Linked DNA regions of Homo sapiens: regions 2, 3, 4 and 5 are each linked to region 1. The links come from fine-mapping of genetic effects on gene expression. A gene starts in region 1. Each other region holds a variant in brackets. All regions are shown on one strand. Distances are between the middles of the regions.

Region 1 (5,999 bases):
CCATGGGTAAGTTATGCAACTTCTCTAAACTTCAGCTGTCCCCTCTGTAAAATGAGGACAAATACTACATACCTCTTAAAACTTCCGTGAAGACTGAGGTAATAAATACATTTTGCACTGTAGCTGGCATGGAGTTAAATGTTTAATATGTTATTTCTATGTCTTGCCCAAGCTCAACCAGCTAGTGAGTAGAAAGGCAAATATTCTGCCTAAAAATTTCACACTTTTCCACAGCCATAAAAAAAAAAAAAACAAAAAACATGTCCTTTGCAGCAACTGGAGCTGCTGGATGCTGCTGGGGGCCATTATCCTAAACGAATTTATGCAAAAACAGAAAACCAAGTATTGCATGTTCTCACTTATAAGTGGGAGCTAAATCTTGCGTTGGGAGCTAAATCTTGCGTAGGGAGCTAAATACTGGGTTCACAGGAACAAAAAGTTGGGAACAATAGACACTAGGTACTCCAAAAGGAGGAAAAGAGAGAGAGGGGCAAGAGCTGAAAAACTTCCTATTGGGTACAATGTTTACTACCTAGATGGCAGGATCAATAGAAGCCCAAACCTCAGCATCATGCAATATACCCTGAAACAAACCTGCACATGTACCCCGTGAATCTACAATAAAAACAAATTTAACAACAAAAAGTCACACTTCTCACAATAACCCAGAAGCCAGAAAGGTCACTCATATAGTACTCATAAGGGCCCTTCCAACTCCAAGATATTGTGTCCTTTTTTTTTTTCACTCTTGTTGCCCAGACTGGAGTGCAATGGCGCGATCTCGGCTCACCACAACCTCCACCTCCCGGGTTCAAGCGATTCTCCTGCCTCAGCCTCCCGAGTAGCTGGGATTACAGGCATGCACCAACACGCCCGGCTAATTTTGTATTTTTAGTAGAGACGGGGTTTCTCCATGTTGATCAGGTTGGTCTCGAACTCCCGACCTCAGGTGATCCACCCTCCTCGGCCTCCCAAAGTGTTGGGGTTACAGGCGTGAGCCACCGCGCCCGGCCATATTGTCCTTCAAGCAAAAAAGACACAGGTTTGCTTCCCCCTTCCCCTCATTTCCTACTTAACAATGAAGACTCCAATGTATTATGAAGTCTTATTAACAAAAGCATGCTTCCATTGGAAAGAATGTAATGTTTTCCCAACTCACAAAACTTCCACCTAAAAAACCGGAACTAAGCCTCTTAAGACTAAAACAGCTTTGGAGAAATTCCCAAAGGCTTCCTTTTTTATTTTGCATGTTTACATCCTAAAATACATTTCAGCTTTTCCTAACTTAATACTAAAATATGCCCTCAACACCATGAGTTCAGGGGCATATCCAGCACACATTTTCTAAGTAAACACTGAAAGCATGCCCTTTCTGCCCCTGTGAATACAAAGATGACTTGGTTGTTCTGGGCCACTGCTGTCACTCCTTCCCAGCATTAAACACATGCTCATAACAAGATAAACCATCCCCACTCAAACCAAAGTGGGCAAAGATATATTCACATAAAAGCCATCAAGATGATTTTCCTTTCGGTAGAAAATCCTTTATTGCTCAATCAAGTTTAGAGTATTGATTGGTTTCTAATCACCACCGTGTACAAAATAAATATAAATAGGAAGCACTGCAAAATATCTAGAGTCCTTTTAAACAAGAATATACCAAAACCCAATTGAAATGCCTTTATGCCAACTGACTGATTTACAAGGTTATTCATTTGAGGGGGAAATATCAAGATCATAAACTATCTGAATACCTACTGATAAAAGCTAAATAAATTATAGTAGGTACATAAATTAGAATACTGAGTTACCATTATACCCTGAAAACCTACTGAAAAAATATATTTTTTAAAAAAAATAATTTTTAAAGAATACTATGTTACCATTATGAAGAATGTGAACACTCTACTCATGGAACTTAAGTGGAAAAAGTAAGACACATAGTAGAGTAGGTATAGTAAAAGGGAAGGATACCTACACATATTTGCTTATATGCATAAAATATCTTAGTAACACTGTTATGAGGGAGAGGAATTGGATGGCTTAGGGAAGGGGATAAGAAACTTTGATATCTTTTGAATTTTGAACCATGTGAATGTATTACCTATTCAAAAATATATATATATATGATGTGTATACATATATATATATATATATATATTTTTTTTTTTTTTTTTTTTTTTTTGAGACAGAGTTTCGCTCTTGTTGCCCAGGCTGGAGTGCAATGGCGCGATCTCGGCTCACCGCAACCTCCACCTCCCGGGTTCAAGCGATTCTCCTGCCTCAGCCTCCCGAGTAGCTGGGATTACAGGCATGCGCCGCCATGCCCCAAAAAATAAATTTTAACAATGCTTGAGAATTATAAAAATTATGGGAGGCCTACAAATACCTATTACTACATTCGATTAACTGGTTTATTATTTGTCTTTCTCACACTTTCTGCCTATAAGAATATCCAACACAAACATCACATTAAAATTAACATGTACCAAAAGAAAGGAATTCAGTGAAATGACATTGAAGGTCACTAAGCAAACTTTTTATGAGAAAACAGATATCCAAAATACTTGCTGTAAATAAATAAGTACTGCTTACTTCTAAAGGTACCTAACATTTATTACACACCAACTAGAGCCTAGTTTTTATATATTTTATCTGATCTTGGAAAGCTAAGCCTCGGAATGGCTCACTGCTTCTCCCAAGGTCACCAGAGCTGTAAACTGTGGCGCTGGAATTTAAATCTAGAGGCTTGCCCTGAACTAAGGTCCCTAATCTTTTTCCATAGCTTTTAAGGACACAATCACCACAGTGGCAACATTAAAAATTAGGAGCTCCTTTTAAGGCTTATCTGTCTTCAGAGTTTGCTGCCCAGGTTCACCAAGAAAGCCGAAATGATCTGAGCGAAGGCCAGGAGAAAGACAAGGTACGCTGCAGCTTCCACAAACCCAGTAAGGACCTGGGCCCTCTAGACACTCACCGGAGAATTAAACTCTACTGAGCTGAACGCCTTCTCCCGAAATCTGACCTCACCCAGGGAGATATAAATCAAAACAGCATTAGGATGATAATATCTTTCCCGCCAAGCAAAATGAAGCCGGCGTTTTCCAAGAACACACGCACTGTGCACATGAAGCACAGTCTATTGTTCCTGGGTCACCAGGACTCGGAGACGGAAGGCAAACCCAGTACTGCAGAGGCCCACGTGGAAACAAGCCAGGAAGAGCATTTCACTGCCTTCTCCCAACCTCCACACAGCCGAAATTAATCTCCTTGCGACTCACACACACTCCTATGCCGACTTGAAATAAAGGCCTGCCACCTGGGTATATAACTCAAATGGAAGAGAAATTCAAAACAATTAGAGAGCAAAATTAAGCGCACACTCACCAGCCCACCAAAACGGAGAGGGAAAGAAAGTGGAGAGACAGGAAGTCGCCTTGGGAAGTGTCTTCAGAACCTGATTGGCTAATGAGTTCAAGAGGATTCCCTCCTCCTTTACCTTAAAAGGTGCTGAAATGACGTAACCCACTCCACCCCTCTTTATGGACCAGTGATGCTTCTTGCACTATTTTTGGAGTGAACTTCTTAAACCGAGTTTCCTTTTGAGTTAATGTACTTAGGCAAAAACAGGCTAATTTAAGCTATTTATACACGTTGTTGTTTGCGTGGGCCTACTGCATTCTATTCTAAAGAATTTTCATCCCTTAAGGGTAATTTCTTATCCTTTGTGACCTCAACATGCTTAACTTATGCTAGGCAACAGATTCCATTATAAACAGTCTAGATCGATTCAAGTTAAAATTTACCTTCATTTTTTCCCCCCAGATCCAAAGCTGGCCTGATAAAATTTACCTTCAGGTAATCTTTGAACTAACAGGCTTAGTAGATAAAAGGTAGGTGGGTTAAGTGTTTTAGGCTTCAAATAAAATTTAGCTGATTTTGAATCTGAACCTTGCCACTTATTTGCACACATCTAAGCCTCAGTTCCAACTATAAAAAGAGGGAAAAAAGATGAAATCTTCCTACTCTGATGGTTATGAGGATTAAGTAAAATAATTTATATAATGTACTCAGTACAATGCCCGGTACACAGTACTCAACAATGTTAGCTGTTATTATTGTTATTACATATTTCTTGTTAGATTTATATTCCCAAGTAGACTATAAACAACTGGAGATCAAAGTGTACGTTTTACACATCTCCAGACAAAAACAATGACTTTCAATGCTGAGGACATAATTGATTAATCAATTATTTTGACTCCTCACATCGCCCTCCAGTTAAAGTATAGGTTCTTACTCTGTTAAATTTTTTTTTTTTTTGAAACAGGGTCTCACTTCGTGTCCCAGGCTGGAGTGCAGTGGTGAAATCTCGACTCACTGTAGCCTTGACCTCCCAGGTTCAAGCGATCTCCTGCCTCAGTAAGTAGCTGGGACTACAGGCGTGCACCATCACACCCAGCTAATTTTTGTATTTTTTTGTAGAGATGGGGTTTCGCCATGTTGCCCAAGCTGAAAGATTTCTTTTTAAGCCATAATTAGAGGACTCCCCGGCACAATATTCATCATTATTCTTAATAAATACTATTATAGTAATAGGGAATATATATACAAGTATGTGTTATATGTACAAATATACATGTAATGTGCAAATGTTTGAAGTATAAAGATTCAAGTTATATGGAGAAATGATACAACTCTAACTCATAGTAGTTCTCATTTTTTAATCATTTCATCCTATCCACCCTGCTTCCACCTTACTAGAAATTACCTATTCCAATCCACTTTAGAGTTTACCTGCCCCAAATTTCCCAACATTTAGCATCAAATGCTAATTTGTTATTTCATAATTGATTTATTGTAACTTCTAGAGTCAAAACATTTCTTGAATGTTTACTATAAATATTCAAGAAATGTAATATTCATTACCTTGTTTAATCTTCACATTAACCCAAGAATGTAAGCACTTTCATTATAACTATTTCACCAAAAAAAAAAAAAAAAAAAAGGAAACAGAGTTATAGAGATTAAGGAATTTGTCTATTTAGCAAGTGGTAAAGTCAGGATTCAGATCCCAGTTGCTATGGTTTGACTGTCCCCTTCAAAATTCATGTTGTCACTCTAGTTTCTCTTCATATCGCATAAATCTTTCACCTTTTACAAAATTCATGTTGAAACTTAATCCCTAAAGTGGCTGAAACTTAATCCTCATTAGAAGTGGGGCCTTCAAGAGGTGACTGGATCATGAGGGTTCTGCCCTCATAAATAAATTAATCTATTCATGGATTAATAGGTTATCATGGGAGGGGAACTAGTGGCTTTAAAGAAAAGGCAAAGAGACTTAAGGATAGCATGTTAGCAGTCTCAGCATCCTGGCCATGTGATTTCCTGCCACGCCTTGGAACATCACAGCGAGTCCCCTCCAGCAAGAAGGAGTTCAGATGCAACCCAGAGGCAGTCCTTAACCTTGGACTTCACAGCATCCATAACTGCAAAAAATAAATTTCTTTTTTAAAATAAATTACCCCACAGCCTAGCCAACATGGCAAAACCTCGTCTCTACTAAAAATACAAAAATTAGCTGAGCATGGTGGTATGGGCTTGTAGTCCCAGCTACTCAGGAAGCTGAGGTGGGAGGATCGATCACTTGAACCCGGGAGGCGGAGGTTGCAGTGAACCAAGATTGTGCCACTGCAGTCCAGCCTGAGTGACAGAGTGAGGCCCTGTCTCAAAAACTAACTAAATAAATAAATAAACCAGGCTTGGTGTGATGGCTTAGACCTGTAATCCTAGCACTTTGGGAGGCCGAAGCAGGTGGATCTCTTGAAGCCAGGAGTTCGAGACCAGCCTGGCCAACATGTCGAAACCCCATCTCTACTAAAAATACAAAAAATTAGCCAGGCATGGTGGTGCACACCTGTAATCCCAGCTACTTGGGAGGCCGAGGCAGGAGAATCGCTTGAACTAATGAGGTGTAGGTTTGGAGTACCGCTATACTC
Region 2 (5,999 bases), 280 kb after region 1:
TTTGGCTTACATTGTAATAGGATAACTCTGGCTGTTCTCTAGAATAGGGAGTAGAGAAAAAGTAGGAAGATGAGTTAGAAGGCTATCATTGGGATGTGTAAGAGATGAAGGAGAGTTTAGACCAGGGTGATAATGAGTGTGTTGGGAAATAGACGAAGATAGAACAGTGGATTGGATGTGATGTTGGAGAAACTGGATACATGATGGATTTGTTTCCTGAGATATGGGTGGTGGTTGGAGAGCAATTGGAAGAGAAGTGGCAGGAAATCAAGGGTATCATTTGAGACAAGTAAATTCTGAGATGCCTATAACTTGTTCACATGCTGGGGCAAGCAGGTGACTATATCTACAAATCTAGATCAAGGCTTATGAATAGGAATCATCAGTATACGATGCTATGTTAAGCCTCATGACTTGATAAGTATAGAGAGATAAAAAAAATTGGCAAGGGGAGAGCAAGATAACACTCAAATATTGAGAGGTCAGGAAAGGAGGAGCCATTAAAAGAGACTGAAAAGTAGCCTCCTGAGATGAGAAATGAAGTAGGACGAAGACTGAAAAGTGACCTTTAGATCTGGAAGCATCAAAGTCATTGGCAACCTTGACAAAAGCCATTTCAAGTAGCGTGGTGGAGAAAAAAGGCCTGATCATACTTGGTTGAGGACAGAGCATGAGGGGAGGAAGTTGAGATACACAGTGCATAACTTTTAAGAAGTTTTTTCTATCTATGCAGAATAAAGAGAATTGGGAAGAGTGGCTAAGAAGGAATTTTTTTAAAGGATTGGTGATACTGCAGCTGTTTAGTGTTTGTATGCTAATGGAAATGATTGGCACACTGGGGGAAATAGCTGCTGTGTGTGTTGTTAGGGGCTTGGGGGTGGAGGAGCGGAGGTAATGTTGATTTCAGAAACCAAGTCCTTACCCGAAGGAGAGGAAATGCGAAATTCATCTGATGTGAAACTGAAGGAGCTGCCCTCAAATATGAGAAGTGAAAGATGGGCCTTGAAACAAGACAGAAGACAGAGATGATGAGTGTCGATGTGGGTAAGTTAGTCCATCTGTTGCCAGGAAGGGATATAGTTCACTTCTAATGGAATCGTTTTATTCTGTAATAGTTATTCACACACTAAAGAAAGTTGCTAAGGATCCACAAAACATTATTTTTAAAGTTAACATTTCAAAATTTGCCTTTGGAGATACACTTTCTCTCATCACTCTATTGCTCCACTGGAGTTAACAGAATTCATTGCCTACCTCACAGTACAAAACAAACAAACACCAGAAAGGGTGGGGAAAAAGGAAAGAAAGGAAAAGGAGAAGAAAAGGCAATATTATGTAATAACATGTAAACCCCTTTTTAAAAGATAACACATCATACAGTTACACATGGTGACAATGTTAGTATGTGTCAGCTCCCAATTCATTCCCAGGAAAGAAAGCAGCTCCTTGTGTTTACCAAGGGCTAAAATTTCCGAGCAACTTTGCATAGACTGTTTTATTTGACTTGACAGGATTGCTAGAGATAGGCAGGGAGAGGAAGATGTGTTACAGTTTGTCAGAGAGAATAAGAAGGATAACCTGGGGTTTTCTGTGCTTTGCTTCTTCACATCCCTGGGGAGTTAATAGCTGCAATTTTTCAAAGAACGGTATACAGGGACAGCAAAGTGCAGTCGTGAAGTTTTCAAACAAGACACACCTTGTTGAGTTGAAAAGAGCGAGGGCTCGTCCGGGATTTGAACCCGGGACCTCTCGCACCCTAAGCGAGAATCATACCCCTAGACCAACGAGCCGCGATACAGATACTCTTAAGTTTTGCACTAAGGCTCATTCAAATCATTAGGCATTTTTCTGATAAACTAGGTTCTTGGGTGCCTTCTATCGGCAAGAATGCGTACTTATTTGAATAGTAGAGGTAAACCACACGCCCCAAGAGTCATTGAGACTGGCAGCTTCTGCAGCAGGCGTGAACCCCCGTAGCCTAAATGACAGCCGAAGAGGCGCCGAAGACATGCAGATGTGCCAAGCGGCAGTCACGTTGCTGCCGCGTTGTCCGACCCCGCTTACCTCCTGATGTGGAAATCCCTGTGGGTAGGAGGAAAAAACACACAGGCCCCAGCGAGAATTGAACTCGCGACCCCTGGTTTACAAGACCAGCGCTCTAACCCCTGAGCTATGGAGCCCTCGTCTGCTTTTAGTTTCTCTTCCTTTCATCTTATAGATTGATGTTATGCTCCTAGCATTCCGGCTAC[T/C]GAATAGGATGTTAGCTTGAGTAAAATTCCAGGATATTCTCCTACAAAATGAAAACATTTTCGTGCTCTGTAAATCCCTCGAAAAGGTTCTGCTTTGAGCAGAGCAACTATCAGGCTGTCTTCCCGTTCCTCACCGTGATACTCTCTTGAGACTTTGCCTACTGTGCCTCTGTGGTGCATGGAAACGGTGTTGATGTAAGAATTTCAGATCTTTGGGTACAAGGGCGACCCCCCCCACACACACCTCCCGAAATATGAGGCGTCTATGGAGGGCGTCTGATGGACAAGGAAATTGTAGTGCTCGCCTTCCGCTTAATATGGTGGTAAAATCCAGGGACGGAGGTGAGAAGAGATTTTCCACGGCTTTTTCCTTTCTCAATCCAGATCCCTAAACCTCTAAACTTGGAGGAGTTTTCTGTGGTCAGAGGAAAGAAAGTTAACTCTTTCTGGAGTTAATCCCTCACTCTTCCAAGGTCCAGAGGTAGAAGCAAACAGGGAAAAGGGGTGTTGAGGAAGAAGAGTTTAATCCTTCCCTGAAGACATACACAGATTTACACATAGTTGGTATGAAAATAATACGACTTTTTAGAAAAGATTGTTTTTAATTTTTAGAAACCTTGTTTATATAAGCTGGTGAACAGAAACTAAACAATTATTTAACTAAGAAAGATCTCGTACCCATTTCTTACGGCAAATAAGCCGTAGGTGAGAACATTGGAAAATAAGCACTGATTCATGAAACACCAAGAAGTGACGCGACTCTGCTTAGTAAGATTTAGACCCTCTGACCACAGCTCTGCTCTTATACTCACTATTTTTTAGTGCTTTCATGTCCAAGATCACAAAATTTGTAAGAAATCTGTAAGGTTATTATGATTCATTGTCTCCTTTATTTTTCATTATTTAAACGTAAAACATGATGCTGTTGACCTTACACATTTTCAAGGAAGAAAAGTGCTCTATTTAGATAGGCAAAGTAAGGCATTTGTGGCAGATTTTCTTGGATTAGGGATGAGTCAGGAAGAGGCCTCACAATGTTGTCCTAAGGTGAGATGAATACATATATTTTGTAGCCTGACAAGGGCTGTTCCTTCTACTGCTCCTGGGTGTTTAACCCTCAGTCTTCTGCTCCCAAGAGAACTACAAGGCTTTGTTTTAACTGATTGAATTAAAAATTGAGTCTCTATACTCTATTTGCCTACACAAGACACTTCACTGGAGAAAACCTCTAACATGCTCTCTTTGGGCCTAAAGACACACCTCATAGCTTAAGGAAATGGCAGGTTGCCTACCTTTTTTTTTTTTTTACGTCAGGGGAACACAAGTACGCCTACCTTTTTTCTAGAGCAGAAAAGTCAAATTAAAATAAACTTTTGGTCATAGTTGATGTGTGACTGTTGGCATGTATAGACATAGAGTATGTAGTGCAGTGGTTAGAAAAAACCTAAATCGGTTATTTAACTTTGCCAGGTCTCAACGTCCCTGTTTTCAAAATAGGTGTTTATTATTATCATCATTGTTAGTATTATCTTCATTATTATTATTTTCAGAGAGACTGGCCATAGGCAAAATTACTAAGCAGTGGAAACTGTCTCTCAAACGGCCTTCTTCCTCTTTGCTGTTTCTCCTCCTCTCTTTGCTTGTCTTTCTCTGATGGTATTCATGATGGCCCCTCACCTTCTCTTAGAACCTGTCCCCTCATTCTCACCCTGTCACAATTTGGCAAGCTCACTTCTATTCCCTACATGAATTGATTTCTTCTCTTCTAACCACAGACTGTTATTCATTTAAGAATAATTTAAATTTGGGAGGCTGAGGCGGGCGGATCACGAGGTCAGGAGATTGAGACCATCCTGGCTAACACGGTGAAAACCCATCTGTACTAAAAATACAAAAAATTAGCGCATGGTGGCACGGGTCTGTAGTCCCAGCTACTCGGGAGGTTGGGGCGGGAGAATTGCTTGAACCCGGGAGGCGGAGGTTGCAGTGAGCCGAGATGGCGCCACTGCACTCCAGCCTGGGCGACAGAGCCAGACTCAGTCTAAAAATAATAATAATAATAATAATTTAAAATATTCAAAGAAGTATTCCAAGGAGAGAAGCCAGGGCAACAACCATGGATCTGATGTTTCTGGTTTCTGCTAGACAGAGGCTGGCTTTGCGGAGAGGGTTCTCACTCCTCTATCAGTACAAATAAACCTTTGACCAATTGACCCTATCCACATTCAGCCCACTTCCTACCATCAAAGGTTGTCCCAGGACCTTATGTTACATTCTCATTCTTCCAGGCCCTTACTCCACAATTCACTCGAGTTGGCGTGTCTGACGCTACGAAACTCCAAAAGCCCCTTCTACTAGTTTATTAGACTTAGCATCAGCAAACCTGGTTGTGCTCCAGTGTGTTCTGGCCCATCCTGAGCACTTCCTCTGCTGAGCAACTTGACCCCTAGTTGTAATCTTAGCAATATTTTTAATTGCTTTTTTTGTTGTTTGTCTGTATTTCTTCCATTTCCCCTCAACTTTTCATTTGGAAAAACTTTAATCCTAATGTGGAAATAAATGAACACCAGTTAATGAGAACCAGCAAAAGCTATTCAGAGCTTTCTATAGCAAAGGAGTTAGCAGCCTTCACTTGTGATTTTTTAAAAATATAATTTCCATATTATTTTTCTCTAGAGAGAGTTTTTCTTCAATCCTTAAGGACTCACCTTCTTATATGGGCTTTGGTAGGGGTCATGTGGCAGCACCCATAGGTCTGAATCAGGGTGGCGGTGTTCGGTCCTTGCAAGCTTCACAAGATTAATTCCTGTCTACCTTGCTGTGAATGACACAACTCCCACCGTAACAGAATTTCACGAACAACTTGGGAAGCCCATAGGCGTCAAAGATACTAGCTTCAGAAATGTCCCTGACAGGTGCAGTCTCTACTACGTTTTGAATGATGAACTTCTTAATAGTCTTGCCTTTGGGTAGGCATAGGGCATAATTCATGTAGCAAATAGGCTGCACGTGGCTGTGGCCCTTTTTGGCATGACCATTGTTATTTCTTTTCTTTGCCATCTTGGAAGTGGGGACCCAAAAGAACGTCACTTGTGATTTGGCAGAGACTCAAAGGCAAGCAGAGGAGTGGGAAAACTTTATAGTGGACAAAGGGAAGCCTTCAAGTGTGCCCTGACTGGAGACTGTGGCATGGGGACACGGTGGGCAGGCTAACTAGAAGCGGGGCATCCTATGTGATTGGTTAGGGATGCATATTTGGCTTTCTCTGGTTGATGCTAACTTGGAAACAGAAACAAATAATAGGAAAGGTGTTAATTATTCATAAATTCCTAGCCACTGGGTCTGGTTTTTACAGAGGTTATTGTTTGGCTTCCTGGGCTGGTTGCTTAGAGATAGTGGTCTGACTTCCTAAAAGTCTGGCTTAAAGGCAATGGACTGGCCGGGCGCTGTGGTTCACGCCTGTAATCCCAGCACTCTGGGAGGCTGAGGCAGGCGGATCACCTGAGGGTCAGGAGTTCGAGACCAGCGTGACCAAAATGGTGAAACCCTGTCTCTACTAAAAATACAAAATTAGCCTGGCGTGGTGGTGCATACCTGTAATCCCAGCTACTCAGGAGGCTGAGGCAAGAGGATTGCTTGAACCCAGGAGGCAGAGATAGCCAGTGATAGGCGGTGAGCCAAGATAGTGCCATTGCACTCCAGCCTGGGCAACAAGAGTGAAAATCCGTCTCAAAAAAATAAATAAATAAA
Region 3 (5,999 bases), 32 kb before region 1:
AGAGACTGAGGCAGGAGACTCACTTGAACCTGGGACACGGAGGTTGCAGTGAGCCGAGATCGTGCCACTGCACTCCAGCCTGGGTGGCAGAATGAGACTCCGTCTCAAAAAAAAAAAAAGATTAAAAAGTGACTATTTAGCAGAAGCCAAATATAAAATGTTGAAGGAATATACCACACTATTCTTTAAAATGTAAACATTCACCAAATTAAGAAATTAGAGTAAAATATAATTGCTCTAAAAGTTCCGTGATTGAAAAAGGGCAGTTTAAAGTCAAAGGTAGAGTTGTGGGGAGAGTGGCAGGAGGGGGAGAAAAACCAATTTAAAAGGGCAGTCCCTGAATTGCAAACATGAACATACAGTAACTGTGTTCTTTATTCTACCACAGGGAGCAGAATAAGTAATGATAAGTTAAAAAGCAATTCTCTATATCAAGAGAAGCAAAAGAAGAAAGGTAAATATGAGAGCTAAATAAAAAGTGCTCAGAGGACCAATGTGAAGTCAGAAGCCAATTCTAATAATGAGAAAAAAGGCACTCAAAGTCTGAGGGAAAGCCCTATGCAAATGCCTATCAACATAAAAATGCTTGAAAACCTAAATAAATTTCTTGAAAACCTAAATAACCTAATTCACTTAATTCCTAGGAAATGACACAGAACAAGCTACACATTGTTTTCTCTTTTAGCCCATGGGAAATCCAGAGCCATAATATTACCTAACGGTTAATTTGGGGATAGCACTTAATTTACACTGAAGTATAAGTTTTCATTATTCTTTAAAATGAATGTACAAAAATATTAATAAGTATTATTTTAATAGACTTTTTTCCCATTAAAAAAGATGAACATGTTGAGGCAGCTCTGTGATTTGGTTATATATGTGTGTAAGAAACCCAGACAGGTCAAGGAGCTATCCAGCACCAATGCGACACGATGCAAGTGGTTCCTAACACTCAAGTTATAAGAAGTCAGTCATCTCTGCAGACACATCTTTGCAAAATCACAAAAATGAGATGCCAGCAAACACTGCCACTGCCCATGATGCTTGCTAAAGGGCCACAAAGAAGACTGAACAATGCTCTTGCTTCTGTTGTTGCCTATTCATCTGGCCTGGTGACCATAAGTACTTACTGCTTGGGCATAGGCACTGAGGGCTTGCTGGGAGATCTTAGGGTTCTGGCCAGTAGAGAAGTAAAGGGAAAGATATGAATTCCCAAGAATATCTGAAAGAGAAACACAGTGACAAATCATCTCAGAGTCCAAGTTCAAGATATGACTTATTTTGATCATTCTTGAAAGTATATTTGAAAGGTCCCACAAGAAATCCAAACCAGGAATGACACGATACTTAGTATACCCAAAACTCCACTAGGATAGAGCACCAAGGACACCAAACTGAAGTTTGAACAGACTGTACAAAAGCCCTTCCTTGCTTACGTGAAAACTAGGATCAAAAGATCGAAGAGTTCCTAGAAAAGTAGTTCCCCAAAATGTCTTTCGTGTGTCTTCAAAACAAAGATGCCCTCTCTGGCTTAAACCTCAGAATCACACTCAAAAGAGGGACTGCAAATGTTGCTCTGATTGAAAACATCTGCTCTAGAAACCTGTTGGAGATCTTTTGAGAGCACTCACACCAGGAGCGGCCATCATGGACATCCATCTGAACAGCCAACTTAGCCTGTCGGACACTGTCCATGACATGGTGAGAATGTTCATCTTCAGTGTCAGTCCGCAGCTGACGAAGCACCATTGACAGGTTTTGCAAGGAGACTTTGTTCCTGCACTGCAAATAGGAAGGGCACATACTCAATCTTCCTGATTCTACCTCCCCTTTCCAGATCTATTCTGAACTCAGTCTTCTAAATCTAATTTTTTACCTTTCTAAGTTTTTTGTTTTGTTTTGTTTGAGGTGGAGTCTTGCTCTGTCACCCAGGCTGAAGTGCAATGGCGTGATCTCGGCTCACTGCAACCTTTGCCTCCCGAGTTAAGTCTTTCTCCTGCCTCAGCTTCCCAAGTAGCTGGGACTACAGGTATGCACCACCATGCCCGGCTAATTTTTATATTTTTAGTAGAGACTGAGTTTCACCATGTTGGCCAGGCTGGTCTTGAACTCCTGACCTCAAGTGATCTGCCTGCCTCAGCCTCCCAAAGCGCGGGATTACAGGTGTGAGCCACCACGCCTGGCCGTATTTTTCTTTTTGTGACAGGGTCTCACTCTGATGGAGTGCAGAGGCACGATCTCAGCTCACAGCAACCTCCACCTCCTGGGTTCAAGTGATTCTTGTGCCTTGGCCTCCTGAGTAACTGGGATTACAGGCACATACAACCATGCCCATCTAATTTTTGTATTTTTTGGTAGAGGCAGGGTTTCACCATGTTGGCCAGGCTGGTCTCGAACTCCTGACCTCAAATGATCTCCCCACTTTGGCCTCCCAAAGTGCTGGGATTACAGGCATGAGTCACCACGTCTGGTCCATGTATATATATATATTTTTTTTTTTTTTTTTTTTTTTTGTAGAGACAAGGTCTCACCATGTTGCCTAGGCTGGTCTCAAACTCCTGAGCTCAAGTGATCCTCCTGCCTCGGCCTCTCAAAGTGCTAGGATTACAGGTGTAAGCTACCACACCCAGCCCTAATTTTTTCATCTAAATTCTTGCTGCCATCTGTATCTTCAACCCCCATCCACAGGGATCAGCTTAGCTGCTAGCTTTTCTTCACTTCCTTTCTCCCCCTGAACCTGATCCCATCATCATCTTCCTTTCCCAGGCCCCTGCCTCTATTTTCCTCATTCAGGTCTGCTCTCTGACCTTTCCTCCCTCCTGATTCTGTCCTAGTTCAATTTCAGTTCTACTCTGGTATTCATGTCCTAGGGAAACTCATAGAACCAAAGAAATTCATCCTTCCCATCTCTGCTTTCCAAAGGGATAGGGGGCAGCTCACATGGGTGAGGGCTCCTGAGAAGCAGGTGTGGGCAGCTGCAACATCCCCTTTTTTCCAGTACACCTCACCCAGCTGGTTCCAGGCTTCCACCAGCTCGGGCTCCAGCTTCACAGCCTTTGACAGAAGCTCCTCAGCCTTAGGGCTATAGTCAGGAGTCACATTTAGTGCTTTCCCAGTTAGCATTAGAACTTGTGCCTTGCCCTGGACAGAACCTAAGAGGAAGAAAAAAAGATAAAGTGGGAAAAAAACAAGTTAAAGACCAGGGCACTTTCTCTCAAAAAATAACTACACGTCAGTTTTAGGAATAAAAAGAGTTGGGGAAAATATTTATCAATAAACCATTTATTGAAAGCTCACCATAGGCAGAGTGTATGTTAGCTAATTAGGCAACAAAGAAAGCACTATTTCTAGAGCTTCTGCCATCTGTTTCTTGGGCCCCTATCTACAAGGATCAGCTCGGTTGCTAACTTTCCTAGAGGGGTTTACAATCTAGTGGAGAAGACAAAGCGTAAACATGGAAAATTAAAA[C/A]CATGAAAAAGAGCATATGGCATTAGCCCAATGAATGGGCTTTAACAAGTGAAGAGAAGATGAGTCAGGACAAATAGTTATCGTTAAAACAAAACAGAGAGAGAGAAGAAAAGACCCTCCAGGTTAGAAAATGATATAAACAAAGACACAGAATCAGAAGTACATGTGGCCATGTTCATGGGAGAATAGACAGTTCAACCTGGATGAAACAGAAAGTTCCTCTACAAGTAATTAGTCAGAGATAAGGTTAGAAAACAGAGTAAAACAATGGACACTTAAATACCAGGTTAAGGGGGTTAGACTTCAGCTAGTCAATAGCAGGAATCTTTAAAGATACCTGAGCAAAAAGGCAGATGAGAGGATAAGGTTAAATGCATGAAGTAATGATTTAGAAAGATAGCCATGGCCATGGTATTATATAAGTGGATTTGAAAGTAAAAGAAATTAGAGGCAGAAAGTCAGATTACTGCAATAGTTCAAGTAAGTATGCTCTTTCATTTCATGCCATTTGCTATAATCAAATTTTAGGAAAAGTGGCTTAGGGAATGAAAGGTTGCACAGGGGCCCTGAGAAGTAGTATTACGTTGTACTACCCTATAGCAGTAACAGATAGGATACCAAAGAGTCAATGAGGAGGGAGCAAAGGTCAATCACATTTCACTGAAGGATGGGGGTTGTACAATCTCTAGGGCTCATACCCACTACTTCTTCCATCTGCTGTAGGGTTTTCTCCATCTCCTTCTGCACATCCTGTTGCTTCCTCCCAGCATCCTCAACACTATGTGTCTCGAAATAGCAGTCTCGAAATGAGTAGAGCTGATCCACGAGTTCCTAAAAAGTATGACAATGGAACCATTAAGTGGAAAGATCACTGGATAGGGAAACTTGAAATTGGCTAGCCATACCAGCTCTTGGTCTAGAAATACCAATTCTCTTTCTCACCTATGAATGGCACAATAGGCAGGTGGACAGGTTTACTAAAATGCCACAAATCATGAGGAAAAGCAGCCAGTACCCCAGGCCAGCTCTCATGGTCCCATGTTGTCCCATGCCAGTGTCTCTATTGTGATGACCATTTTCTCTCCCTGCCTCAGCAGGGCTTCTAATATGACTAAGCACTTCACATACCACAGTCATGAGGAGGGAAACACTGCAACTTAAGATAAACCAAAAGTTAGTAAGATCATTCTATATGGTCCTGGTCCTCAAAGAATAACACTTTGAAATTTACCCTTAAAGTTGGACTTCTCAACTAAAACCATTTTATCCCTGATTTTTCATATGCTGAGATCTGAAAATACAACACAACCTTTGTGAATATAATAAACATGTTAGAGAGTCATTGTTTTCCACCACAAACATACCAATTTGAACTTGGTAACTTTGGTATCTTTGCAGCATTTTGTTCTTTTAAATGCTTATTGTGGTTTTGTTTAGTTTGATTTTTTTGTCAAGTCATCTTCTGGCTGCCTTGGATTTTTTACAAATAAATATTCTCTTTCCTCTTAAATGCCTCTGAGTCTTCCTGTCACACCAGGCAAAGCTTTTCTACTACAGGTCAAGCATCCCTAATGCAAAAATCTGAAATCCTCCAAAATCTGAAACTTTTGAAACGCTGACACCACAAGTAGAAAATTCCACACCTGACACACAGTCAAAATGCGGTCAAAACGTTGTTTCAGGCACAAAATTATTAAAAATATTGTATCAAATTACTTTCAGCCTATGTGTATAAAGTGTAAATGAAACAATTTTTTTTTTTTCTTTTTTAAAAGACAGGGTCACCAGGCGTGGTGGCTCATGCCTGTAATCCTAGCACTTTGGTAGTCCAAGGCAGACGGATCATGAAGAGATCGAAACCATCCTGGCCATCATGGTGAAACCCGGTCTCTACTAAAAATACAAAAATTAGCCAGGCATGGTGGCGCACACCTGTAGTCCCACCTACTCGGGAGGCTGAGGCAGGAGAATCGCTTGAACCTGGGAGGCAGAGGTTGCAGTGAGCCAAGATCATGCCACTGCCCTCCAGCCTGGCAACAGAGCAAGACTCCGTCTCAAAAAAAAAAAAAAAAGAGTCTCGTAGGTTGCCCAGGCTGGTCTCAAACTCCTGATTTCAAGCAATGCTCCCACCTCAGCCTCCCAAAGTGCTGGGACTACAGGCATAAGCCACCAAGTTTCATATTTAGATTTGGGTCCCATCCCCAAGTTATCTCATTATGTATATGCAGATATTCCAAAATTCAAAAAAATCCAAAATCCAAAAAACTTCGAGTCCTAAGCATTTCAGATAACAGATATCCTATTCTTTCCTGAAACTAAATAGATAGCAGCAGAAAGATATAATCACTTCCCTTCGAGTGTAATCAACAATCTTCACAACACATCCTGAATTCATCCACCTGTCTCCATCCCACTATGACCATTCCTGGATTACATCAGCTTCATTACTTGCCTGGACTGCAAGAGCTTCTTAACCAGTCATCTTGTTTCTGTTCTCTCCCATTCTCCTCACTGTAGTGGGAGTGATCTTA
Region 4 (5,999 bases), 66 kb after region 1:
CTTCATTTATTGTCAGATGTGGGAGGCAAAGAGGAGTTGGAAGAAAGGGGAGAATACCTTGATTTCTGAGTTGAGCCTCGAGGGCATCAATGGCATCATGGGCGTTAAGAAATCTGAATGGAAACTGCCGACTGTGGATCACCGACTTCTAGAAAGCAAAGGAGGGAGGGGTCATGAGCACAGGAGCCGGGAGTATGGGGGGCTTCAGGGGTCCACTCTATTAGCTTTGTGGGAAGGTACAGAAGGACAAAATGAACTTAGACAAGAGATATAGAAAAGGGGTAATAAGAAGAAAGAAAAAAGTCATCATTTTAGGATGTGAGAAAAGGTAACAAAAGAAGAGAAAGTAACAGAAGGAGCCCCGTTTCTTTTAAGACTCCCTCTGGGCAGGGTGTGGTAGCTCACGCCTGTAATCCCAGCACTTTGGGAGCCTTAGGCAGGTGGACTGCCTGGGCTCAAGAGTTTGAGACCAGCCTTGCCAACATCGCAAAACCCCATCTCTATAAATAAAAAACAAAGACTCCTTCTGAAATCAGTTACATCACACAAGTGTCTCTTCCTGGTAAGTCACTGAGCTCAGAAAATTAAAATGAAAGTTCTTATACTCTACTGTAACTTCTCAAAGGATTTACTGAACCCCAAAACTTATCTCCCTCAACCTAGCTGTATTCCCAGATCTACTTACAGCCCACATGGAAACAGCTTGAGGGCCGTACCTGCCTCTGCCCCCTGAAAAAGCCTGGCCTCTAAAGCAGCAGTGGCCTCTCCACGTGCACATCTAGTTGCTGGGCCCCATGGCTACCAGCCCCTCACACATACCGCATGCTGGAGTCTCTGGAGAATGAGCTCATGGTGGCGGGAACTGATTCCAACCCGCAGCAGGTTGCACAGGTTCCGAAGCATGGCCATGAAGGGAAGCTTCCCATTTTCTGTGGAATGTGGGGCATAGAGTGAGAAAAACAAATGAGAAGGCCAGGCACAGTGGCATGCACCTATAATCTCAGCTACCAAGGAGGCTGAGACAGAAGGATCACTTGAGCCCAGAACCCAGGAATTAGAGTCCAGCCTGGGCAACATAGCAAGACTGTCTCAAAAAAAAAAAGCAAATGAGGGATGATTAGAGAGAGGTCAGAGACCAGAGCAAGAAGTTCAGAAACCAGGCATGTGGAAAGTCCAAGATAGAGGAAGTGAGGAATTCACATACAATCTACCCTACTCAAAATGTTTTAAAGGCTTGGAAAGATTAAAAACAGGGTTGGCCCAAAGTTTGGAACAAAATTTATGCAACACTGTTTATGGGATGGCTGTTATGTTACCACTTAATCTGTTGGCTCTAGCCCTAAGATTGGGTTCAACTGGCAAAATGTATTATCTAGTCTAGAGCAAAGGTTTCTAAACTTTTTAGATGGCCAAAAGAGAAATTTCGTAGTGTAAGTTGATTTATGAAGTATATACTAACATAATGTAGCACATTCATTAGTTAATATTTCAAGGCACAATATCCATTTAAAAGAAGGTTCACCATTTATGAAACCCCGTCTCTACAAAAATACAAAAATTAGCCAGGCGTGGTGTCTGGTGCCTCTAATCCCAGCCACTCGAAAGGCTGAGTCAGGAGAATCGCTTGAAACCAAAATGCGAAGGTTGCAGTGAACCGAGATCACGCCACTGCACTGCAGCCTGGGTGACAAAGCAAGACTCTGTCTCCAAAAAAAAAATTAAAAAAAAGTTCACCATTTATAATGACGAATGTATGTAAATCCATATTTGAAATAGTCTTCATAATTTGTAAGCTTCTCACCCAATTTCTTCTATTTGATTAGTCATTACTTTTTTTGCTTAAATATAGGTGAAAAAGATTTGCACTGGAGATAGAATTTCACCACTGACCTCTGTCACTTCCTTATTGTTCCCTTGTACCTGTGTTATTAATATTATCTTCAAGCCATAGTTTCTTTTCTTTTTTTTTTGAGACGGAGTCTCACTCTGTCACCCAGGCTAGAGTGTGGTGGTGCAATCTCAGCTCACTGCAACCTCTGATTCCTGGATTCAAGCAATTCTCCTGCCTCAGCCTCCGAGTAGCTGGGATTACAAGTGCTCACCACCATGCCTGGCTAATTTTTGTATTTTTAGTAGAGACGGGGTTTCACCATGTTGGCCAGGCTGGTCTCAAACTCCCGATCTACAGTGATCTGCCTGCCTCGGCCTCCCAAATTGCTGGGATTACAGGCGTGAGCCACCATGCCCAGCCCATAGTTTCTTAATAATAATATTTTTAAGGTTTATATCAATTTTAGGCCGGGTGCAGTGGCTCACGCCTGTAATCCCAGCACTTTGGAAGGCCGACTCAGGCGGATCATGAGGTCAGGAGATCAAGACCATCCTCGCTAACACGGTGAAACCCCATCTCTACTAAAAATACAAAAATTAGCCGGGCGTGGTGGTGGTCGCCTGTAATCTCAGCTAATCAGGAGGCTGAAGCAGGAGAATCACTTGAACCTGGGAGGCGGAGGTTGAAGTGAGCCGAGGTCGCGCCATTGCACTCCAGCCTGGGCATCAAAGTGAGACTCCGCCCAAAAAAAAAAAAAAAAGGTTTATATCAATTTTAGACAGTTAATTTGGTTAATACTGAATAATATAATTCCAAATCCATCTACAATTGAAAGATAAATTGCTATAAGTCAAATTATATAGAAACCAAAATTAAAAAAAAAAAAGAGTGAAGGGGTGACATTAATGCCCTCAGATTGTGGATGCTCAGAAAACCTCAACTATTACACGTAACACATAACACTGTATCATATGGATTCAGTGACTATGTGGGTTCAATCTGCATGGTAAGTACTGGGAAAATTCTTTTCTTTTAGATAAAAGTAAACATAAATAGGAGGTGTGATTTTCTTTTCCTGGACAGAGGTGCATTCAAACCACTTTAGAGGCCAGGCCGGTCAGTCC[G/A]TCACCATGCCTTGTGCACCAGCCCACACCATCAGCAGCTTCATCAGGTAAATGCTGCTCCCTTTGTAAAGGGGATGTAAGTCTTATTTGAATTATAGCTGGAAGCTTTCAGCCCTCTGGAAGTCTTGGGATTCTCCAGTCATCATTCTTTTTTTTTTTATTTTTGAGATGGAGTCTGTCTCTGTCACTCAGTGGCACAATCTTGGCTCGCTGCAACCTCCACTTTCCAGGCTCAAGCAATCCTCCTGCCTCAACCTCCCAAGCAGCTGGGACCACAGACATCAACCACCATGCCCAGCTAATTTTTCTATTTTTGGTTAGAGACGGGGTTTCACCATGTTGCTCAGGCTGGTCTCAAACTCCTGAGCTCAAGTGATTTGCCCGCCCCAGCCTCCCAAAGTGCTGGGATTACAGGCGTGAGCCATGGTGCCTGGCCTCCAGTCATAATTCTGATTCACAAACTGTATGGAACAATTAGGTTGTATATGTACTATAAATGAACTATTGCATCCATTGTCGACTCAAGTTTTTTCCACTGTTACTATGTATAAAAGGTTTTCTAGATCATTTTCGGTAAGAAATTAAGTCCAATATCATACTGGTGATATTAGAAAATAAACTGGACATTTATCCTTAAGATTGCAAAATTCACTAATTTCATTCCAAAAAAATGTTAATGAGTTATTAATGAGATCTGTGGTCTTCAAAAAGGGTTCTGTATATCCAATTACATTTTATCTTATATTTTATACTTATATCTTTTTTTATATTTCCTTTTATTTATTTATATTTATTTTTGGCTGGGCACAGTGGCTTACATCTGTAATCCCAGCAATTGGAGACCAGCCTTGGCAACAAAGTGAGGCCCTGTTTCTTAAAAAAAAAAAAAAAAAAAAAAAAAGTACATATACATATATTCTGGTGTATCCTAAAAATTGTTTTTGTAGTATATGATTAAAAAAAAGAAACACTAGCCACCACGGGATTAGACTATGGGCATTTGCCTCAACCAGGATAAATGACATTAAAAGAATAAATTTACATGTCCTTACATTTTCAGGGACAGTGGTTCTCAACCAGAGGGAGGAAGTGGAGATGGGTGCATATAGAATTATCTTCATATGGCTGGGCGTGGTGGCTCACACCTATAATCCCAGCACTTTGGGAGGCCGAGGCGAGTGGATTACTGGAGGTCAGGAGTTCAAGACCAGCCAATATGGTGAAACGCCGTCTCTACTAAAAATACAAAATTAGCTGGGCATGGTGGCATGCGCCTGTAATCCCAGCTACTCGGGAGACTGAGGCAGGAGGCAGAAGTTGCAGTGAGCCAAGATTGCGCCATTGCATTCCGGCCTGGGCAAAAAGAGCAAAACTCCGTCTCAAAAAAAAAAAAAAAAAAAAAAAAAGAATTATCTACATATACCGGCTTCTATCCAGGCCCCTTTATTCTACTCCACCCCAAGTGGTTTCAACCATCAGGGAAGAAGAGGCTGTCAACTGGGGGCAGGTGTGTGTGTGTATGTGTGTTTGTGTGTGGGTGCGTGTGTGTGTGTGTGCAGTGGCTCATGCCTATAATTCCAGCACTTTGGGAGGCCAAGGTAGGAGAAATGCTTGAGGCCATGAGTTTGAGACCAGCCTGGGCAACATTACAAAGACCTTGTCTCTAAAATTTAAAAAGAAAAGTAATAATTTTATAAAGTAAAAAACGAAAGAAAGAGCCTGCTATAGGTAAAAGTAGACCAAAAAAAAAAAAAAAAAAAAAAAAACAGAGAAAGAGAAAACTGAAGATAACTTGATCCTCCTCTATTTGACTTTTTTTTTTTCTGTATCAATGTGGGCAAATTACCTAAAACTTCCATGTCCTAAATACAATATGAGGTTCTGTACAGATTCCAATATGCCATGTGCCAGTCCTACCTTTTTTGGAATGAGTTACAGAGATATCGATATGAGTACAATGAGAGAGAAGGTACTTTTGTCATATGTTGATAAAAACTTGTACATCACCTAACTACATCTGGTATAATGATCTATGATGCCAACATTACTCAAAGCAGGTACCACTGTTTACTTTGGTGTAGTCAATGGCAGACCTTATAAATCAAATACAACAACCAGGCAAAGTAATAACTTCATCATTCCACAGAAATCTTCTAGTGAGGATCTAAAATGTGGAGGCATAAATGGGGAAGAGAAGGAGGGAATGTGATGGTCAAGGTCACTCTACCAATGAGTTCCTCCCAGACCGACGCTTTGTTCCCCCGTAGGCTCAGCTCCCGCTCCCAGGTCTCTGGCCTAGACAGCTTCATCCTCTTCCCAGCTCTGCTAGAATCCCAAGGCCCAGGAAGGCGACTTCGAGAAAAGAGCTGTAGGTTGGAGGGGTATCTGAGGATAGGTAAGAAAGAGGTCTATCATTTCAGAGTCAGCAAGAAAATAACTCAGAAAAGGAAAGGTGAGTCATGTTTACAGGGCATGTCTGCCCAAATATGCCTAAAAATAACTCAGAAAAGGAAAGGTGAGTCATGTTTACAGGTGAGTCAGAAAAGGAAAGGCAGCAATTGGAAAGGCAGTCATGTCTACAGGGCATGTCTGTCTAAAGTCATGTTGCTGGGTTTGAGAACTACTGGGATGGGGGCCACGGATGTTGAAAAGTTAAGGAATTACTTAGATGGAATGCATGCTCAGGGTGCAGCTTCTCACCTGTAACCCAGCAGGGCTTGAACGTGCTGGGCAGGCTTGTGGATGTGCAGTCGCTGAACCAGCTTCTTCAGGGTGAACCTTGGAGGATTCTTTTTCTCTGACACTGTATCACCGGCCTTCTCAAACTGTGGAAACATCCCCAAGTCCCACAGGGGTCCTTTCATCCATGACCATGGGAACTTTCTTCAATAAAGCAGATTGTAAGACCATCCGATCCCTATGTGGTAATTTCTTTCTTCAAAATAGATTTGGCCAAGGAGCAGGAATAGAGGGTACAAATCTCTGGCAACAAGAGCTCCCATGGTAAGCAGCACAGGATGGCAACTCTTTGGGGTCACTGTTTC
Region 5 (5,999 bases), 39 kb before region 1:
ATGAGTGTGGCTGTGTTCCAATAAAGCTTTATTTGTGGACACTGAAATCTGAATTTCCTGTAATTTTCACATATCACAAAATATTACGCTTCTGTCCATTTTTTTCACTTAACAACACAGAAACCACACTCTTGTTTTTCTTTTTTTTTTGAGGCAGACTTTCTCTATCACCCGGGCTGGCGTGCAATGGGACAATAATGGCTTACTGCAGCCTCAAACTCCTGAGATAAAGTGGTTCTCTCACTTCAGCCTCCTTAGTAGCTGGGACTACAGGCATGTGCTACCATACCTGGCTAAGTTTTTTAACATTTTTTTGTAGAGACGGGGTCTCACTATATAGCCCAGGCTGGTCTTAAACTCCTGGGCTCAAGTGATCCTCCCACCTTGGCCTTCCAAAGTGCTGGGATTTTACGCATGAGCCACCATGCCCAGCCTAGAAACCATTATTAATAAACACAAGCAGTGAGCCAGATTTGGTCAATGGGCTTTGCCAACCTCTGATCTAAATGGTTAAACAGTAGTTAAATATCTACATTCATAAGGTTTTTTTAAGAATTGAATGGGGCAAGGCAGGTAATAAAAACTCTTAGCACAGTGTCTAGCACTCAATTAAGTGTTAAATAAATGTTAACTATCATTACCATCTTCATCACCCCGTGTCTACTCAATGTGGTGAAATATGTAAAAACATAGGAAACATTCACAAACATTTGCATATAATATCCCACTCATGATTTAAAATATAGATATATGTGTATATATTTGTGAAAAGAAAAGACTTCAGGTATATACACCAAACTGTTAACAGTAACAGTTAAAAGGCAGTAATACCTGAGTGATAATATTTCACTGCATTTTTTTATTTTTCTGCTTACCAGTTTACCTTTTTAGTAAAAAAATACATATATATATATAAATAAAACATATACACACAAATATATATACACATAGCCTACACACATACTTACATATAATTATTTCTATATCTTTTATAAAAAGATAAGCTTGGTTCTACTTTTAGAGCCTACGAGTTGTAAGAGAATCCTAGCCATTGCTCACCTTTCCTTTGTGCTGAATTCGGTGAAGCCGCAGGTTGGGCTCAGGAATGGCTACAGAGTCTCCAATGAGCACTCCCCAGCTCTGCACTATATTGTACACCATCACTGCATAGCAAGGTCCATCTGAATCTACCAGGCCAAATGTACTACCAAGTAAAGACAGATTAGGAGAGAGGAAAACAAAAAGGTATGTGGGTAGGAAAGAAGAGCAGAAACAGTGGTTTAAAAATACTAGCAAAATACTGGACTTAAAGTCAGTGACAGGTAATTAAAATAAAATATAAAATTTAACTTAATTAAACTTTAAAAATAAAATACTAACAAAATAAACAAATGCTTTTTCTCAGTTACTCAGAAAACCTATGAGAGGTACCATCTTCCACTTTATATATCTGAGTCTTCATTTTTCTGAAACTCATCAGTCACTTTGCTAAGAACTTAGGACAAAGCACACTGAAGCCATTCAACAAATATTAATGATGAACTAGACCAACATGTTACAGTTGTAACATTATTCCTGGTCTATCAATTTAACTATCATACTCTTAACCAAAGCCTCTAACCATCACTGTCTGTGTAGTTTAACTCCACAAACTTTCACTGAATATTACATATGTGCCAAGCATTGTGTTTAGCAATAAGATACCAATCCAGCTATGAATGACCTATAGTCTAGCAGGAGTCAGACAATGAAGTCATCACTTACAGCACAGTGTGATGGGTGCTAGAATAGCTTTTCCCTTGTGCTGAATTCAATGAAGCCACAGATTGGGCTGTGGGAGCCCAGAGGACAAATATCTAAATCAAAATTGGAAAGCAGGGAAGATTTCCTGGAAGAGGTGACGCTCAAAGTGAATCTTAAAGGGTAAAAAACCAGCTGGGTTAAAAGAGAAAAATTAATCCTCGGTAAAAATGTTAAAAACCTCTGAGGGGATAGGAACAGAGATTTTGACTTGGAGGCAACATCAGGGAACTTCCCAGAATGGTGGTAATGATCTCTATTTGGGTTATACAGATATTTTCCATTTGTTAAAAGCTATGAAATGTACGCTTAAAATTGTACATTTCATTGTATGTAAATTTTACATAAAAAGAAAAAATTGAAACAAATACTGAACTCAGTTAATGACTGCATGCTAAAGTATGTAAAGTATATTGATCTCTGCAATTTACTCTGATAGCAGGATAAACAGACTGATATGTAATAAGCTAAGTAAAATAAAATATTAATGGTAGAATATAAGTGGATGAGAACACAAATGTTCAATGTAAAACTCTTTCAACTTAGCTATATGTTTGAAAATTTTTATACAAAATGTTGGGGGCAGAAGAGGATGTTAGCTATGTCAAGAAGAAGCTAGAGATTATCCAGGCAGAGTAACTGTATGTAAGACACAGAGGCATGAAAACAGCTGTTCTAAAACCAACAAAATTGTTCCATGGTTGAAACAAAAGGCACTGGTGGGAAAGAGACAAAAGATAATAGAAAGAGAAGCAGGGAGCAAATCATGAAGGACTTTGTATGCTAACCTAAGTAGTTCACACTTTATCCCAAAAGCTACATATAGTACCAGTAAGGGATCTTAAATAAGAAGTAGCAATGGTCAGATTTCCATCTAAGAAACATTTCTCTGGCAGCACTGTGGAACACTGGAGGAAACCAGAGAATCAGGGAGACCTATCTGGAGAAGTGATAAGGGGGTGAATTAAGGTGGTAAACACAGAGAAGTCAAGTCTATAGGACAAAAAAGGCAAATCTTTTTGGAGAATGGAGAAGCCTATTCTTCCAAAAGTCTTAATCAAGTGACTGAGAGGTGATACCATTCATTCACAAGGAATCCAGGGAGGAGAAGCAGGTTTACAGAGAAAGATTTAGGTGAGTAATACTGAAATACTGAGTTAGAGATTTCTTATTGGAACCCAGAAGCAGATGGTTATAGGAATCCAACACTTGGAAATGAAGCTTGGGCTGGAGATATATCTGTAAGCATATAGGAGGCTGCCAAAGCCTTGGGTTTATATGACATCACAGGGCAAGATGATCTATAGACAGGATGGAGAAGAATCACACTCATGCCATCACGTGACATGCCTGAATTCACAGGAAATATTGCAATCAAGCAAAGCACTCTCCTGATGAATCCAGTCAAAGCCTCAGAATCCTTCTACACAGTATGTCAGGCAACCACTGACAAGTGATCAAAGTTGGCAACTATAGGCCATCCTGATATAAAGAGAAAAAAGGAAAAAAACAAAAATAGAGTCCTGGGAACCTAAGATTTAAAAGTTAGGCAGAAAAAGAGAAACCAAGGAGTGGCAAAATATCTATTTGTTCTCAAGGTCCTCCAAAACCTACCTTTGTCTATATCCCTTTCTAATTCTTCTCAGCTCTAGGATTTGCTCTAGTAAACTAAACTGTTCTCAACTATCTTTTTGCCCTTCAACTCGTCAAATATACAAACCCCTAGAAAATGCCATGGAGAAAGCTTGGGCATATAATGGGAATTGTGAATATTTCTGTTTAGATGAACAGAAAGGATGTGAAAAGCAATAGTGAGAGATAAGTCAGAATGTTTTGGAACCATGCAATAGAAGTTGCTGGATCCAGTGCCTAGAAAGACAATGGTGATCCTA[G/T]GAAAATAACAATTTCAGTAGAAAAGAGAAAGGGGAAACCGGTCAACCAGGGATTAGGAAGTGAGTGAAGGACCAAGGAGTGGTGGCATTCACTAAACCGTAACTTTTCAAGATCCAAAAATTTTCTAAACAAATATTCTTAATTCATTTCCTCTGCTGCTAGAAGCACCTGCACCTGGGTCCTTTACATTTCTTTTTTCTCACTCCCTATGACACATATATTACACACTCAATAAATATTTGTTGAATGACATCTAAGACAATCTCCCAACCAGACTTTAAATTATAACTCAAAGCTCACTTTTCAGAACTAAGTATACCTAAGTACAAACAGGACTAAGAAATTTGTCCTCCTTCAACTTCTATGATCATGAAAATGCAAAGGGACAGAAGAATTTTGAGGTTTCTGTCTTATAAAAAAATATGTCCTGCCAAATTTCAACTATGGATATAGGAATCCACATAGCACCAAACTCAGGGATACAAAATGGGCAGTGACAGAATCTACAAAAGCCTCTGATCAAAAGATGGTTAAACATCACCCAGACAATATCTGCCCACGGGATAGTCACAGAAGGAAATCAGAAGTCACAAATCTGTGACCACTGACAATCTCCTCAACTGCCAGGGAAAGAACAGGAAGTGAGAGCAATTAGTTCAAAAGGGTAAAATGGGGGAAATCCAAGAGAAACTCACAAGGGGACTTTCTCCTCTGTGGTGAGGCTAAATACCACCTTTCCCAGGATGACGGCACCGCTGTTCACCCCAGGCTGAAGCGTACTCAGTGGCTTGAGCTCCAGGGTCACTTTCTGCCCAGAGGCTGACTGATAGTGCCCATCACTGCAAGGGCCTAGATGGGCTGGGCGCAAGCTTCCCAGCATGCTCTGCAGCTTTTTGGTCTTCACCTTTCCCTGCAAAGAAGGGGAAATAGGTAAGAAGCTGGAAACTAGTCGCCTTCCTTGAGATTCTAATCCTTCCCTCCCACCCACTTCTATAGGGTCTCTACCTCGTAAACCTATTTATTCTTATTTTATTGACCCACGACAAAATAAAAAAAAAAAAAGTGGAATTCAGCCCTTCAGACATTTTTACCTTACTCTCAAGGAGGCTGGTTAATCTATCCAGGAATTCCAGAAGTTGTTGCTCTCGTTGCCGGGGCTCTGGCCAGGCAGGGTCCAGGGCTGCAGCCCGAGAGAAGCCCTCCAGGGCCTCCCCATAACTCTCTTCATATTTATGCAACTGTACAAGAAGTGTATCCCAATTATAAGTATATCCAGACAAACTATCCCGAGGGAATGGCACCATGGGCTAGGAATCTAGAGAAATAAACTGTTTTCCTTCCTGGTTATTTTCCTGTGCTGCAACAAACAGCCTGAAGAGCTGGTAACACCTTACATCCTTCTTCCTAGCCAAGATGATCACAACCCCAAAGATGGAATCATTTCAAAGAAGCTAATTTCCAAACTCTAAAATAGTTAAGTTGTATATATTGGCTCACTTGACCTTTATATTTACTTAACATTTCAGAAGTCTTCTAAAAGATCCCCCCATTCTCTACCTATTCTTCCACCTCCACAGCCCCTTCTCCTTTCCCTCCAGTGACTACACCAGATACTGAAGCCAAACCGAGCTAGCTATTTATAGAAATAGCATGGCTTTCCTCTCGCAGTCTGTACCCAATCTTGTCCCTATGCAAACTCAGTTATCCTCACAAGCTAAGACATAGGTGTCTTATTTATTTGACCCTCAGATGACTACACCCCAAAGGTCTTACCGTCGCCCTGTTCAGATGAAGGTCAGGATTGCTAGAAGCTTTTCTGTCAACTTTCTCCTATAATGGGATGAAAAGATTATCAGTGGATCCTGTCTCAATGTTAAGGACTGACATGCCCAACATGTCCTACGCCTCCTCTTTCTAGAGAAATGGAAGTTTCTTCCTTGCCAAAATGGTATTTATACCACAGAAGCAGTTACCGTATAACAGTGTGGATATCTTAGTCCCAAAACCTTAGGGATATAAGTGTTTTTGTATGTGTGAGACTTCAAAATATTATTATAATTTATCCATGTAGTAGTATTAAGATAGAATAAATCTTTATATAAATGAAATATGTGGGCCGGGCACAGTGGCTCACACCTGTAATCCCAGCACTTTGGAAAGCCAAGGCTGGCAGATCACCTGAGGTCAGGAGCTCAAGACCAGACTGGCCAACCTGGTGAAACACTGTCTCTACTAAAAATACAAAACTTAGCTAGGCATGGTGGCATGCACCTGTAATTCCAGCTACTCAGGAGGCTGAGGTAGAA

The links. PIP is the estimated chance that this variant, and not a neighbour inherited with it, causes the effect. A credible set is the group of variants that fine-mapping cannot tell apart.
Region 2: its variant is the best candidate, but not a certain one, in a credible set for the expression of CCNB1IP1 in whole blood (INTERVAL, PIP 0.71).
Region 3: its variant is the best candidate, but not a certain one, in a credible set for the expression of CCNB1IP1 in whole blood (TOPMed, PIP 0.55).
Region 4: its variant is the best candidate, but not a certain one, in a credible set for the expression of CCNB1IP1 in whole blood (TOPMed, PIP 0.73).
Region 5: its variant is the best candidate, but not a certain one, in a credible set for the expression of CCNB1IP1 in whole blood (TOPMed, PIP 0.67).

What each region holds. Positions count from the first base shown.
Region 1 is chr14:20,329,867-20,335,865 of GRCh38, forward strand. It overlaps CCNB1IP1 (cyclin B1 interacting protein 1), which reads right to left and starts at 3,413. Exons shown (of 7, transcript NM_021178.5): 1 at 3,388-3,413. RefSeq lists an enhancer at 3,183-3,492.
Region 2 is chr14:20,611,683-20,617,681 of GRCh38, forward strand. It overlaps TRP-AGG2-6 (tRNA-Pro (anticodon AGG) 2-6), which reads right to left and starts at 1,790; the gene lies at 1,719-1,790. TRT-TGT3-1 (tRNA-Thr (anticodon TGT) 3-1) reads right to left here and starts at 2,180; the gene lies at 2,108-2,180. It also overlaps the pseudogene RPS26P9. RefSeq lists an enhancer at 877-936 and a silencer at 1,667-1,856. The variant T/C (reference allele first, on the strand shown) is at 2,250.
Region 3 is chr14:20,297,667-20,303,665 of GRCh38, forward strand. It overlaps TTC5 (tetratricopeptide repeat domain 5), which reads right to left. Exons shown (of 10, transcript NM_138376.3): 2 at 4,167-4,299; 3 at 2,941-3,152; 4 at 1,632-1,782; 5 at 1,131-1,222. Among named protein-coding and RNA genes, the nearest start is that of TTC5, 5.3 kb to the right of the region's middle. The variant C/A (reference allele first, on the strand shown) is at 3,469.
Region 4 is chr14:20,395,802-20,401,800 of GRCh38, forward strand. It overlaps TEP1 (telomerase associated protein 1), which reads right to left. Exons shown (of 55, transcript NM_007110.5): 8 at 5,656-5,780; 9 at 5,183-5,340; 10 at 820-929; 11 at 58-148. Among named protein-coding and RNA genes, the nearest start is that of TEP1, 15 kb to the right of the region's middle. RefSeq lists an enhancer at 4,828-5,999. The variant G/A (reference allele first, on the strand shown) is at 2,956.
Region 5 is chr14:20,290,924-20,296,922 of GRCh38, forward strand. TTC5 (tetratricopeptide repeat domain 5) reads right to left here. Exons shown (of 10, transcript NM_138376.3): 6 at 5,467-5,523; 7 at 4,785-4,931; 8 at 4,389-4,603; 9 at 1,060-1,204. Among named protein-coding and RNA genes, the nearest start is that of TTC5, 12 kb to the right of the region's middle. RefSeq lists an enhancer at 4,133-5,332. The variant G/T (reference allele first, on the strand shown) is at 3,693.